Regions from separate parts of the Homo sapiens genome. Here region 2 is linked to region 1. A link means that fine-mapping ties the variant in region 1 to the expression of a gene that starts in the linked region. Tissue or cell type: tibial nerve. Region 1 holds a variant in brackets; the other region holds the start of a gene. All regions are shown on one strand. Distances are from middle to middle.

Region 1 (8,111 bases):
ACCTGTCTCTACTAAAAATAAAAAAATTAGCCTGGTATGGTGGCACGTACCCGTAGTCCCAGCTACTCAGGAGGCTGAGGCAGGAGAATCGCTTGAACCCGGGAGGCAGAGGTTGCAGTGAGTTGAGATCACGCCACTGCACTCCTGCCTGGGCGACAGAGCTAGGCTCTGACTCAAAAAAATAAATAAAAATAATGAAATAAATAAATGAGTAAAAATAAATTATCTTCTTTATTTCCTTCCTCTATTCTCTCCACTGTCTTTCAATGTTTCTATTTTATTGTCACTTGATCAGTTTGCTTTCTCCATCAAGAATATGACATCAGGAAAATAGTACAAATGTTGGAACTTCACAAACCTGATTTTAATCCTGCCCTGCCCACTAGCTGTATAAGTTGAAATGTCACTTAACTCTGCTAAGTCTTGGTTTCTACACCTTTGAACAGTTACTACTTCCTACTTTGAAAAGATGTGCCATTCAATGAGTCAATGTGTTCATTCTTAAATGTTTATTCATCTTTTGCCAAGTGCCAAGCACAGTGTGGGCACTAGACCAATAAAAACACTTCTGTGTGTTCCAGGTACTTTATATTAATTGACTCATGTTACTATCAGCATTTCACAGATGAGGAAACTGAGGCATGGAGGGATTCAGCATCTTGCTTCCAAAGGTAGTATCAGGCTGTGCCTAGAGACCAAGCCCTTACTCTATGCCAGTGGTCCCCAACCTTTTTGGCACCAGGGAACGGTTTCCTGGAAAACAATTTTTCCACAGACTGGGGTTGGGTGGGGGGAGTTTCAGGATGATTCAAGCGCATTGCATTTATCGTACACTTTATTTCTATTATTATTACATTGCAATACATAACAATTATACAACTCACCAAAATGTAGAATCAGTGGGAGCCCTGAGCTTGTTTTCCTACAACTAGACGGTCCCATCTGAGGGTGACGGGGAACAGTGACAGATCGGCAGGTGCTGGATTCTCATAAGCAGCGGACAACCTACATCCCTCGCGTGGGCAGTTCACAATAGGGTTCGCACTCCTATGAGAATCTAATGCCACCGCTGATCTAACAGGAGGTGGGGCTCAGGCAGTAACGGAAGCAATGGGAAGCGGCTGTAAAAACAGATGAAGCTTAGCTTGCTGGCCCGCCGCTCACTTCCTGCTGTGCAGCCTGGTTCCTAACAGGCCACAGAACGATACTGATCTGTGGCCCAGGGGTTGGGGACCGCTGCTCTATGCCATACATGAGGAAGAAAACAAAGTCCGTGCCTTCCTGAGACTTTCATTCCAAACGTGAAATCTGGAAGACTCTGGGACAGTTTGTGATAGACAAATGGTTCCTCTTTCCTTCCCCCAATTCCATGGCTAAAAGGGAGAATCACAAAATAAAACAGGAGAGAGGCAATCTGAGAGCTACCCCATTTCAACTCCCTCCCTCTTTTAATAAGGAAACCAAGAGCAGTGAGCACTTGTTCTGTCACAGGTGCACTCACTCACCTTAATCCATAGGTCAGTGACTCTCAAACTTGAACAAGCTTCAGAATCACCTACAGGGCTCATGAAAATAGTTTGCCTAGTCATTCCCAGAATTCCTGATTCAGGAGGTCTAGGGTGAAGCCCGAGAATTTGCATTTCTGACAAGTTCCCAGGTGATGCTGAGGCCGCCACTGCTGCTGGTGCTGCCCCAGCTACCACACATGAGAACCACCGTCACAGAACAACTCCACAAAACAGGTTATTTTTGTTCCCATTTTACAGATGAGGAAACTGAGCATCAGGAAAGGTAGGTTTCTTACCAGAAAGAAGCTACACCACTAGACTGCCAGACAGGATTTGAACCCAGATCTGCCTGACTCTAAAGCCCATGCTGCTTCCACGACACCAAAGTTAAGAGATCTAACATTCTCGGCCCGATGCGATGGCTCATGCCTGTAATCCCAGCACTTTGGGAGGCCGAGGCAGGTGATCACCTGAGGTCAGGAGTTCGAGACCAGCCTGGCTAACATGGTGAAACCCCATCTCTACTAAAAATACAAAAATTAGCCAGGCATGGTGGCAGGCACCTGTAATCCCAGCTACTCAGGAGGCTGAGGCAGGAGAATCGTTTGAATCCAGGAGGCGGAGGTTGCAGTAACCTGAGATTGTGCCACTGTACTCCAGCCTGGGCAACAGAGTGAGACACCATCTCCAAAAAAAAAAGTCTAGGATTTCTCCATTACCATTACATGTCTACTCTTTTTTTTAATTTTTTTTTTTTTTTTTTTTTTTGAGACAGGGTCTCTGTCGCCCAGGTTGGAGTGCAATCATGGTTCACTGCAGCCTTGACCTCCCAGGCTCAAGAGATCCTCCTGACTAAGCCTCCCAAGTAGCTGGGACTAGAGGTACAACACCGTGCCCAGCTAATTTTTTCTATTTTTTGTAGAGATGAGGCCTCACTATGTCTGCCTCAGCCTCCCAAAGTGCTGGAATTACAGGCATGAACCACCACACCCAGCCCTACTGTATTTTAGAACTTCTGTTCTTGAAAAGCAAAGTCAAGTTCCCTGTAAGTGCATAATATATTCTCATTTTCAATGAGAACAGAAGATGGTTTGTAAAAGCTATTTTTAAGTGTCCCTATTTGCCCAGTAATTCCTCTTCTAGAAATCTATGAGAATAATTCAAAATATAGCCCAAAACACAAAGGCATTAAGTGTTCAGCAAAACACTGAGAATCTAAATAACCAATATAAAGAGATTGGTTAGGCCGTGCAGCGTGCTCACGCCTGTAATCCCGGCACTTTAGGAGGCCGAGGCGGGCAGATTACCTGAGGTCAGGAGCTTGAGACCAGTCTGGCCAACATGGTGAAACCCCGTCTCTAGTAAAAATACAAAAATTAGCCAGGCGTGATGGCATGTGCCTGTAGTCCCAGCTACTCAGGAGGCTGAGGCAGGAGAACTGCTTGAACCCAGGAGGTGGAGGTTGCAGTGAGCCGAGATCACGCTATTGTACTCCAGCCTGGGTGACAGAGCGAGACTCCATCTCAAAGAAAACAAACAAAATAAATAAATAAAAATAAAGAGACTGGTTAAATAAATTATTATATATCCAAATGATGAAATATTATGAAGCCACTGAAAATTATTTATTTAGAATGTTTGAAACATCAAAGTATTTATGATACAACACTAAATAAGGAAGAGCACAGAACTAAATTCAGTAAGTACTCAATGTTTATAAAAATATTGAAAAAAGACTGAAAGGAAATAAGCTAGACTAACAATACTTCCCTGCTTCTAATAATTTTCAATACATTCCACCCTTTCTACTACAACGAGCTTTCTTAGTCAAAAAAAAAAAAAATGCACTCTGTTTGTTGACTAAATACTTTCAAGACTCTTTTACAGTTAGTCAATTCCTGAAAAGCCAGGAAAATCAAAATTGTGAATTTTAAGGCTAATATTTAATTCCAGATTACATTTCCCCTGACCCTAGAATATACATTTTTAAAGTTAAAAAAAGGAAAAAAACGCAAATGATAATTATTATAAATACATAGAAAAAAAGGCTATAAAAATGACTAGAAATATGACAAAAGGGATTAATTTTGGTTGGTGGAATTATATGGCTTTTAAGTCTTAACAGTGTTTATTACATTTTCTACAATGAACATCTATCACTTTTGTAATTTAAAAAAAGTATTTGCTATCTTTCTTTTTAAGAGACAACCATCAAGCAAATTATATCACATCTATACGATGGAATATTAATAGACATTTTTAAAAAGTTGTAGAATATTTAATAATATAAAAAAAGGTCTGATATATTATTAGCTGACCATACTATAGAACAGTATGTTCAGAATGATCCCATCGTTTTGTTTAAAAACAAACAAAATATCCATGTATACACAGAAAACACCTTGGCAGGAAACAGACCAAAATATTAATAGTGTTTTATTCTAGGTAGTAGGATTAGAGATTATTTTAATTTTCTTATTTTTGCTTCTGTTTTGGTCAGTTTTCCTCTACTGAATATGAATTACTTTTCCAATATGAAAAAAAAAAAAAGTTTTAAAAAAAATCTAGGTTAAACAAAAAGTTACCTTGTTAAACAAAAAGTTACCTTGTTAAACAAAAAAGAGACAAAGACAAGCAGGGGCATCTTACTGAAAGAACTTCCTTTACAAAGATTTCCAGCCCCACTCCAGCTCTAATGTTTAAATCCATAAACTACTTGTCTTCTAACATCACCAGGTCAGTAAGCATCAACCCTTCCTGCTGTTCCAGACTTAGTCATGCTGGAGGAAGACATGAAATCCAGCAGCAGAGGCCACCCCTCAGGACTGGGTGCGGTGGCTCACCCCTTTAAACAAGACCCTGGTGGGGAAAAAAAAAATCTAACCACCGTCTAAAGCTATGGAACTGATTACAAGTAAATATAATTTACAATCATTTGATTAAGAAAATGCACTATTTACGTTGCAAATAACACAATACCTACAGAATTATACTCTCAGACTTGGCAGAGACCTCTAAGATCATCTGAAGACAATTTCCAAGACCCTGTCTTTAGGATGCTTTGTAAATATTGACTGGAAACAATAACAGAGATGTCACACCACAGAATCTTAAGTAAACAGTTCAAAAGCCTGGCTTCCTGTTTATACAA[C/T]TGTAAGTCACCTTATTGCTAGCTACAAGGTTATTCAGCATTCTGATTTAATCTAAGAATTTCTTTATTTTATGCATAATAAAAGGGACTACAAAGAACAGCTGAAAAGCCAGAAGACAAAGGAACAAAAATAAACAATGACGTGTATTCCAACCCAAACAATGAGAAATCTATGCAACTAGACTATCAGTTCAATCTATTTCCAGGTCGCTATCCTCACTGTGACACGTGGCAGAGTTACGCACAGATGTCAGCACCAAGACTTCCTTTTCTGGGAGTAATCCAAATTCCTGGAGAAAAGCTTCAAGGTCCACAGCAAAGAAATCATCCCCCAGCTGGTCAGTAACACGAACAAAATTGCCGATCAATTCACCCCCCTTATAGATCAGCAGGGCAGGAAGGGCATTCCTGGTGAACTGACTGCTGGCGCCAATAACTGAGCTCTTCACCTTGCAGAACTTGACAGCTGGGTACTCTGCGGCAAGGCAGATCATGCAACCATTCATGGCTTCGGTCCCTGGAATGCCATCCTCATAAATATGAACCATGATGACAATGCTTTTCTGTTCTTTATCAATCATGTCTAAAAACCCTTCTCCACTGGAGATCTCAAAAACCTGCTTGAATTGGGGCCCCTTGTGAAGCTGCTGCCGCATCTCTTCCATTCGCTGCTTCCGGTACTGCTGCAGAAACTCTTCATCATCTTGGTCCTCATTCATTATGGCAAACTCCTTCAGAGTCATCTGCAGGCGGACCAGCAAGTGAGCATAAATATGAAAACTGAACACTCGTGATAACAGTTAATATGGGCCGGGCGCGGTGGCTCACGCCTGTAATCCTAGCACTTTGGGAGGCTGAGACGAGCGGATCACTTGAGGTCAGGAGTTCAAGACCAGCCTGGCCAACATGGCAAAGCCTCATCTCTCCTTAAAAAAAAAAAAAAAAAAAAAAGTTAGCAGGGCATGGTGGTGTGCACCTGTGGTCCCAGCTACACTGGAGGCTGAGGCACAACAAGAATCACTTGAACCTGGGAGGCAGAGGTTGCAGTTAGCCAAGATCACACCAGTGCACTCCAGCCTGGGAGACAGGGTGATACCCTGTCTCCAAAAAAATAAAAAGAAATAAAACAGTTAACATGTACTACATGCTGATAATATATAAGGCACCATGCTAAGTACTTTACATGCATTATATCTCACTGAATTCCATAACTCCATCGGGAAGGGACTTTTAATAGCCCCACTTTATAAATGAGGTTCCAAAACTTGACATTATTTGAACAAGTTCACCCAGTAAGCATAAGACCAGTACTCAAACTAGATTTTAAAAACCCATGTTTTTAACTACAATATCACATTTCCTCTCAATCCAAATAGGCAGCATCATATAATCTCACTTCATGAGCTTATTTCTTTTTGTCAGTCTTGACAATATTTTATCTACTTTTTTTTTGAAAGATAACAAGACATTACAGAATTTTAGAAAAAACTCTCATAACCCCTGCCCCACACCATCCCCAAACACACACACACACACAGAGTCATATGGACTCTAAAAATTATTTTTATTACCAGTCATACTAAAATAGTTTTGCTTTTATAGCAGCAGCTGTGGGTGTACCAATTAAGCCATAACCTGCTTTCGAGACTTAGCACGATTATAAGTATTTCCTCATGTTTCCAAATATTTTTATGAAATTATATATAATGTGTCACTTTGCTTAATCACTTCCCTAATTCTGCCAGACAGTTTCCAATTCTGTTCTATTGCAGATAAATCAGCAGGACGGGAACAGCCTCTCACAAGACTGATCCATGTGATGATATGATGTTGCCTCATTCTGGCCTCTCACCTCAGTATCAGGAAGCAGCTGTGAGCAGCAGGCACAATGCCCAAGAGACAGCTTAAGCTACGAAAGCATCTTACCCCTGCCCCGGTGCAGCAAGACATCCTCGCTCCTCTCATAAAACCTAACTCTGCCTAATGTTGCATAGATTAGGGAACAGGGAGTGGGAGATCACACTAGATCAGAACACGTTGTTACTTTATCATAACCAGCAACATTCTGAGTTCACTATTTTACTTATTGCCAATTTTCCTCCCATCTTGCAGCCCTCCACTTCAACTCAGTCTACCAGAGTGGCTTCTTCTGACCTATTGAAGTCTTTGGCTAAGTGTAATGTCCTAAAATCAGCCTCCTGGTCAAGGTGAATGATTCCCAGCTTAATCCTCTTATCTGCTCCCTGATCCTGTGTGGTATTTTAGCTTTGGGCCATAACTAAATGATCTCAGGCACTCACAGACATTCGTCCACACTCAGAGGGCATCCAGAGAAACAGTGAATCCCTTTTAATACTGATAGGATAAGAGGCCATCACGGGCCGGGCACCACGGCTCACGCCTGTAATCCTAGCACTTTGGGAGGCTATGGTGGGAGGGTCCCTTGACCTCAGGAGTTCCGAGACCAGCCTGGGCAACATAGACCCTGTCTCTATTAAAAAAAAAAAAAAAAAGGCCATCAGGTGCCTACTTCCAAATATCTTCCAGAGTATCTGTTTGCTTATTATAATGCCTCCTTAGAATAAATTCTCATGAATAGGCTTCAGATGAAATAGCAACATCATGGAAGAAACAGGAGTATTTGGGTTAGAACCCTAGCGCCTACTAGAATTTACCAGTTGCATTGCCCTGAACAAGCCTCTAATGCCCTCTAAGCATTGCTTCCATTATCTGTAAGAAGGGGATAATACCACCACCCTAAGAGGGTTATTTCTGGCCCAAGATAAAACCTCAATAAAAGAAGGGAAACTAAAATTTACTGAGCACTTTCAATGGGCCAGACACTGTGATGGGCATATTAACAACACAGCCCTGCACGGGGAGGATACATCATTTAACCATTGAAACACCAGATTCAGAAGGGAAGAGACTCTCCCACAGTCACTAGTAGCAGAACTGAGATCCAAAGCTGGGTGGGTTTGAGTTTTGACAGGGCTCTATGATTTCTCCTGCACTGCACAACTTCTTGGAGGTCAAATCAAGCATCCTCCACCTCTTGAATCACTCACCCAGCTCTAGCAGCCACAGCAGACTCTAAGAAAAGCCTGAGTACTGCTAATTACCTTCCCACTGATCTTCTCCTGGAGGTCTTTCTGTTTCTGTTGCTCCTCCTCTTCATCCAGATGGGACCTGCAAGTCATTGACAGCTTCTTGATCAGCCTTTCCATCTCCCGGCACTGCTCCTCCCTCTGCTCTGTCTCCAACTGCTTGAAGCGGCGCCAGTCATTGATCACACCTTTTGGGCCTGAGTAGGGTGAACACGGATGTGACCAAGGAGAATGGGCAGGGAATTATGGACCAGCTGACATCTGTAGGTAGGAGTTCACATCTGCCTGAAGCTTGCTCCATCTACTGCACAATTATCATAGGGACTCTGTGTACTCTGCCACAGG
Region 2 (8,111 bases), 230 kb before region 1:
CTTTTTATTTCTAGCCTTCGACGTACAGGATGGCACACTAGAATGCGGTCAGAATGAATGCCGAGTGCCAATGATCATTTACAAATAAAACCATTGAATAATAACCTTTCTGTTTCCCTTAGTTGATAGGTCTAATCTGTAATAATGTAAGTTTCCATATGGTCAAAGCAGAGGAACACCAGTGCTAAGGTATTTAGTACAGTCTGCATTTTTCAGGGCATATGACTCATGCTGAAGATCGTAACAATGCCAAGAAGACACAAGAATATGAGAAAGGAATTCCTAGAAAAAAGGCAAAGGTTTCAATGACTAAGCTAATTTTTTCTAAGTCTACTGATAACATACTCCCTACCCCATCCTCCATTAATAAAAGAATGGTTGTTGTATTGTATTATGAGGGAATTAAAAGTGTGATAAGACTGTGCTGGTGTCAGGGTATGTTTGTGTTGTATTTGTTTTTTGTTTTGGGGTTGTTAAAAAATATACTTTTGTTCTAGGCTGAAGCTACTACACTGTGGATCAATAAAACTACTAAAAAGTGTCCCAAGTAACTACTATAATGGTAATTTGCTTTCTTTTAGTAATAAGAACACACCACAGCACAGCTACAATAAAATAAGGTCCTAGAATGAGCAATAGGCCTTTATTTATAAAATTAAGCAATACTCAGTGTCTCTCTAAGGCCAGCTCTAAAAAGAATTCGACTGAATATTAAATATAATTATAATGGTTTATATTTATTTCATAATAGTGACAAATATGGGCTGGGCACAGTGGCTCACACCTGTAATCCCAGCACTTTGGGAGGTTGAGGTAGGCAGATCACGAGGTCAGGAGATCGAGACCATCCTGGCCAACACACTGAAACCCCGTCTCTACTAAAAATACAAAAATTAGCTGGGTATGGTGGCATGTGCCTGTAATCCCAGCTACTTGGGAGGCTGAGGCACAAGAATCTCTTGAACCCAGGAGGCGGCGGTTGTAGTGAGCCGAGATGGCGCCACTGCACTCCAGCCTGGCGACAGAGCAAGACTCCGTCTCAAAACAAAACAAAAAAAAAGTGACAAATATTATATTATGATCATCAGTCAAAGCAATTACAGTTAGGTAAAAAGGTAGGTCATTATAATTAGACTTCCAAAAAATTTTCAAAAATCTTTGTAGGACTCCTGTTTCTAGCAATTAGGCAAACTAAATGCATAGAACACATTTTCATTTCAAAACTCCTAGATATATCTACTTCCTTGTAAGAAAAATAAAATTTAGAAGTCTAGAAATACCAAGAAAATGTGAATTCACAGAGGTAAGCGAGTGCCAATCTTCTTTAAAAATAAAGACAGAGGCCGGGCACAGTGGCTCATGTCTGTAATCCCAGCACTTTGGGAGGCTGAGGCGGGTAGATCACCTGAGGTCAGGAGTTTGAGACCAGCCTGGCCAACATGGTGAAACCCTGTCTCTACTAAAACTAGAAAAATCAGCAGGATGTGGTGGTACACATCAATTGCTTGAACCCAAAAGGTGGAGGTTGCAGTGAGCCGAGATCACGACACTGCACTCCAGCCTGGGCGATACAGTGAGACTCCATCTCAAAATAAATAAATAAATAAATGAATAAATAAGTAAATAAAGACAGAACTTTATTTCTTAAAGCTTCACAAGAAACAAGAGACAAAGCACGGTGTCAAAGCATGGGGAGGAGATCATGGTATTGGAGACCTTTCCCTAAAGCTAGGACCACTGAAGGACTAAGCTCATAGTGTAAGAATTATTTTTTTTAAGTCTAATTTATTTTTGGAGATAGCAAGAAAAAGCAAATTTCTTTTTCTGCGTTTTTGACTTAACCATATTTTTTAAAACTTCTGAGAAGTGTTGCGTTTTTGACAAGGATATATTTTTAAACTTCTGAGAAGTATCAACGTCTAATGAAAGATTGAGAATACACTCAAACTGCATCCATGGCTTAAAAATAATAAACTAAGAAGAATTTGGTTTACGTTGGAATTAGGTAAAAGTAAACAAAAATCCTTTCTGGAAAATGGTTTAAGCCCAGACTTCAAAGACTTTCTAGAGATAAAGTTCCAAAATTTATGAGTTTAAAAAATACAAACAAGGCTCGGCGCAGTGGCTCACGCTTATAATCCCAGCACTCTGGGAAGCCTAGGCAAGAGGATCACTTGAGTTCGGGAGTTTGGGGCCAGCATGGGCAACATAGCAAGATCTTATCTCTGCACAAAATTAAAAAAAAAATTAGCTGGGCATAGTAGTACACACCTGTAGTCCCAGCTATGCAGGAGGCTGACATGGAAGGATCACTTGAGCCCAGGAGTTTGAGGCTACAGTAAGCTACACCCCATTGCACTACAGCTGGGTTGACAGAGTGAGACCCTGTCTCTTAAAAAAAGTTATTTTTTTAAGTTAAAGGAAAAAAAGACATAATGAGCAAGAGTTAGCAGAAATAACAACAGAATGAGACTAAAAAAGTTAGTAGCCACAATTTAAAAATAATCAGGAGTACATATATATGAGAACAAAATAAAAATCTCTAGAAATAAAAGTGTAATTAAAATGAAAACTAAAAGCAGCTCAACAGCAATTTAGATACAGCTCAAAAGAGAATTAAATAAAAAATAGAGCTAAATCATATAGATTATAGCAGAGAGAGAATATAAAAGAATAAGGAAATGGGATTATTTTATTATATTATTTTAACATAATATAATCAGAGACTCAATAAACAGGAATAGCAATACGTTTTGATGTGTAAATTTATAAATACTTTCCAAAAGAGGCAAAAGACCAATGTTCAGGAAAACTTCCATGTGGGACAACATGGAGTAAACAATAAATGGATACGCCCCTATTCACTCTAGTCTGATTTTGCAAAACAATCAGGCAAATCCCAACTGAGAGACATTCTATAAAATATTTCATCAATATTCCTTAAAACTGTCAGGGTCATCAAACAAAAAAAAAAACAGTAAAATATGAGAAACTCACAGTCAAGAGAAGCCGAAGGAGACAGGATGACTGAATATAATATAATATCCTCGATGGGATCCTGGAACACAAAAAAAGGATATTAGATTTTAAAAGTAAGGAAATAGGCCGAGCGCACTGGCTCACGCCTGTAATCCCAGCATTTTGGGAGGCCGAGGCTGGTGGATCACCTGAGGTCAGGGGTTTGAGACCAGCCTAGCCATCATGGTGAAACCCCATCTCTACTAAAAATAAAAAAAAATTAGCCGGGCATGGTGGTGTGTGCTTGTAATCTCAGCTACTTGGGAGGCTGAGGCAGGAGAATCACTTGAACCTAGGAGGTGGAGATTGCAGTGAGCAGAGATCGTGCCACTGCACTCCAGCCTGGGTGACAAGAGCAAGACTCTGTGTTAAAAAAAGGAAAAAAGAAAAAGTAAGGAACTAGGAATAAAGTGTGAACATTAGTTAGTAAATAAATAAACATCAGGAAAGCCAGACAAAATGTACAAAGCAAGTGATTTTAGATATTGAAAAAGGTAGCATGGGGAGATAGAATTTTCAGAATTGAAGTGTAAGGACTTCAGAAAATCTGCTCCTAAAAAAAGCAACAACAAAAGCTAGCATGTAATCCAGCACTCTAGGAGGCTGAGGTGGGAGGCTCACTTGAGCCCTGTAGTTTGAGACCAACCTGGGCCACAAAGTGAGACCCCATATCTAGTTAAAAAAAAAATACCTGGCAAATGTAGCCAGAAAGATAGAAACTGTTTCTGAGGTAGTCCAGATGTTGGAATTACTAAACAAAGACTTTAAATCAGCTATGTAAATATATTTATAATAGGTAGTAAAATATATATTCATAAGTTATAGAAATCAATGTAATACACCATATTAAGAATAAAAATGTAAAAAACCATATGATCATCTTGATAGGTGAAGAAAAAGCATCAAACAAACTTCAACACCCTTTCATGATAAAACACTTAACAAGCCGGGAAAGCTTGAAAACTTTTTTAACCTGATAAAAGGCGTCTATGAAAACCTCACAGCTAACATCATACTCTAGGGTGAAATACTGAGTGCTTTCCTCCTAAGATCAAGAACTAGATAAAGATGACAGTACTTGCCACTTCTAGTCAACTGTGATGGTTAATAGTGAGTGTCAACGTGATTGGATTAAAGGATGCACAGTATTGCTCCTGGGTTTGTCTGTGAGGGTACTGATTCATGCTACAACATGGACAGACCTTGAAAACATGGGCTGGGCATGGTTGCTCATGCCTGTAATCCCAGTACTTTGGGAGGCGGGGGTGGGGGGTCGGATCTTTTGAGGCCAGGAGCTCGAGACCAGCCTGGCCAACATAGTGAAACGCCATCTCTACTAAAAATACAAAAATTAGCTGGGCGTGGAGATGCACACCTGCACTTCCAGCTCCTAGGGAAGCTGAGGCATGAGAATTGCTTGAATCCAGGAGGTGGAGGTTGCAGTGAGCCAAGATTGCACGAATGCACTACAGCCTTGGTGACAGAGCAAGACTGTCTAAAATATATATATATATATATATATGTGTGTGTGTGTGTGTGTGTGTGTATATGTGTGTATATATGTATATAATGTGTGTATATATATACAACATTATGCAAAATGAAAGAAGCTAGTATAAAAGGGCCACATTATATGATTCCATTTACATGACATGTCTATAAGAGGCAAATCCATAGGGAAAGAAAGTAGATGGGTTGTTCCTAGGGGTTGGGGACAAGGTAGAATAATGACTTACTGCTAATGGGTACTAGATTTTGGGTTATGAAAATGTTTCAAAATGAGATAGTTGGGAGAATTTTACGACTCTGAATTAAATTTACTGAATTTACTGAAATTACACTGAATTTTATGGTATAGGAATTATATGAACAAAGCTATTTTTAAAAGGCTATGCAAAACAGCTATCCTCAACAAGGTTGGAAACTTAGGGATGATCTTTCTTATTTTCAGTCCTACTATCTGGAGAGCATTTCCAGGCTTCACTGTAGAAAGGAAAAATCAAAAATATTCCAGCAAACTCTTTTAGTTGAGGAGACAATGTTTGAAGACCAGGGAAGCCTCAGCTTCCCTAGTAGCTGGGACTGCAGGTGTGCACCACCACGCCCAGCTAATTTTTGTATTTTTAGTGGAGACCGCGTTTCACCATGTTGGCCAGGGAAGCCAAGAAAGCTAGAATTCTTGGGACAATACCAGAAAAAAGGAAATTGTGCAGAGAGAAATATCAGATATTTTCTGGTGGGCTTTCTTGGGCCTTTGACTGGGTTTAGATCTGAACATGTGTGTGAATAAACTACCTGAGGCTGGAGAAAGTATCACTAGAAAAGGCTGGGTGGAACATTCATTTTGATGTACCTCTAGTAGTTTCCAGCACCACGGGGAAGGTAAATGGGAGTGACTGCTAATGGGTGCAGGGTTAGTTTTTATGGTAATGAAAATATTCTAATGCTAAACAGTTGTGATGGGTGCACAATTCTGGGACTATACTAAAAACAACTAAATGGAACACTTTTTAAAGTGTTATACTGTTATAAAGTAAATTTTATTGTATGTGAATTATATGTTAATAAATTTATTTTAAATTCATAAAAAATTTCCTAGGTTTTCTTCTAGGATTTTTATAGTTTCAGGTATTACATTTAGGTCTTTAATCCATCTTGAGTTAATTTTTGTACAAAGTGAGAGATAGGAGTCCAGTTTCAATCAATGGAACTCCCATGTCCTAGCAGTGAACAATTGAGAATTTAAATTTTTAACATGAAATTTATGACAGTATAAAAACTAAGAAATACATAAGGACAAATTTAACAATATGTGAACATATTATACATTAAAAACTATAAAGCATTAAAGAAGATTCAAATAAATGAAGAGATATACCTTGCATATAGATTAGATTACTCAATATCATGGTGTCAGTTCTACCCAGATTGATCTATAGATTCAATGCAATCTAAATCAAAATCTTAGCAGGCTATTTTAGAAGCTAATTATTTTATATGGATATAAAAAGAAACCAGAAGAGCAAAAACAACTTAAAAGTGGAAAACAAAACCAGAGAACTTTATATAATTTTAAACTTCCTATAAATTCATAACAATGAAGATAATTTGATAATTGCATAAGGATAGGCATATATATATAAATGAAAATCTTAAAATAGACCAATATGTGTATGGTCAATTAATTTTTTACAAATGCACCAAGGCAATTCGATATGGAAATGATAGTTTTCAACAAATGAGGCTAGAACAATCACTATCAATATATCTTAAATTAAATGAACATAGGCTCTTATGCTGTACCATATACAAAAAAAACTTGAAATGGGCCAAACATGTAAGAACTATAACTATAAAACTATTAGAAGAAGACATTGGAAAAAAATCCTGGCAAACTTGGGGTAGGCAAAAATTTTCTTAAATAGGACACAAAAATCATGAACTACAAAAGAAAAATTTCTAATTTAGACTTCATAAAAATAAAATGCATTTGCTCTTCAAAAGACACTCAATAGGCTGGGCACGGTGGCTCACGCCTGTAATCCCAGCACTTTGGGAGGCTGAGGTGGGCAGATCACCTGAGGTCAGGAGTTCAAGACCAGCCTGACCAACATAGTGAAACCCCATCTCTACTAAAAATACAGAAATTAGCTGGGCATGGTGGTGGACACCTGTAATCCCAGCTACTCGGGAGGCTGAGGCAGGAGAATTGCTTGAACCTGGGAGGTGGAGGTTGCAGTGGGCCAAGATCATGCCATTGCACTGCAGCCTGGGTGACAGATCGAGACTCCATCTTGAAAAAAAAAAAAAAAAGACACTCAATAAAAAGCCACGCCTCAGGCTGGCAGAAAATATTTGCAAAACAGATCTCTAAGGAATTATTGAATGTGTAGTATCTACAGAAGGAAAACAATCCAATTATTTAAAAAACTGTGTGCAAAAGATTTGAACAGATACTTCATCAAAGAAGATATATAGTATATCAGCATTTGTAAAGACACTCAGCATCTTTCATAATTAGATAAATGGAAGTGAAAACCAAATGAAATACCATGACAAACCCATTAGAATGGCTAAAATTCAAATGACTGACAATCCCAGTTGGTAGTAAGGACATGTAGAAATTAGAACTCCCAATCACTGGCTGTAGTAATGCATTATGTAGAGCCATTTTGGAAAGCAGTGTCAGTTTTTCATAAAGTTAAACATGCATTTGACCCAAGCAATTTCAGTCCTGTATATTTACCCAAGAGAAATAAAATTCTCTTGACATAAAGATTCGTATGCATAGACACTTTAATCATAACAAACAAAAACTAAAAACAACCCAAATGTCCATCAGCTAGTGAACAGATAAACTGTGTTATGTCTACGCAGTGGAATACTAACCAGCAAAGGGGAAAAAACTGTGAATACATATAACAGCATAGATAAATCTCAAAATTAGTATGCAAAGTGAAGGAAGTCAGGTGTAAAAAATATACTGAATGATTCTATTAATATGAAATTTTGGAAAAGGCAAAACTATAGCAACAGAAAGAACATTGATGACTATTAGGAGCATTGAGTAGGGGAGAGGATTGGCTACAAAGGAGCATGAGGGAGCTTTCGGGATGGTGGTGTTCTACATCCTGATTGTGTTGGTGGATCTGCAAGTGTTTATATTTCTCAAAACTCATCAGATTTTACACTTTAAATGGTAGATTCTATTATATATATTATGCCCAAATAAAGCTGAGAAGAAGAGGACAAATTTTCAGATCCATCAAGCAAATGATCCCAAATAGCTTATATGAGGGAAATTTACATCTAAACACATTATAATGCAAATGAGGAAAATAAATATATAAAAAGCTAAAAGCAGCAAAAGAGAAAAGTAATTGTATGCAAAGGATCATTATTAAACTGGCAAACATCTCCTAATCACCAGCAATGGAAGTCATAATACAGTTGAATAATATCTTCAAAGACTAAGAGAAAATAATTTTCAACTTAGGATTGTAAATTCTTTTTTTTTTTTTTTTTCTGAGACCAAGTCTCACTCTGTCACCAGGCACCAGGCTGGAGTGCAGTGGCGTGATCTCGGCTCACTG

Evidence for each region. PIP is the estimated chance that this variant, and not a neighbour inherited with it, causes the effect.
Region 2: it holds the start of OR1L8, and the variant in region 1 is fine-mapped to the expression of OR1L8 in tibial nerve (GTEx, PIP 0.96).

What each region holds. Positions count from the first base shown.
Region 1 is chr9:122,815,235-122,823,345 of GRCh38, forward strand. It overlaps PDCL (phosducin like), which reads right to left. Exons shown (of 4, transcript NM_005388.5): 3 at 7,782-7,963; 4 at 2,863-5,402. The coding sequence ends at 4,851. Among named protein-coding and RNA genes, the nearest start is that of PDCL, 9.3 kb to the right of the region's middle. The variant C/T (reference allele first, on the strand shown) is at 4,660.
Region 2 is chr9:122,580,324-122,588,434 of GRCh38, forward strand. OR1L8 (olfactory receptor family 1 subfamily L member 8) reads right to left here and starts at 3,061. Exons shown (of 5, transcript NM_001004454.2): 1 at 2,998-3,061. It also overlaps a transcript of OR1J2 not described here.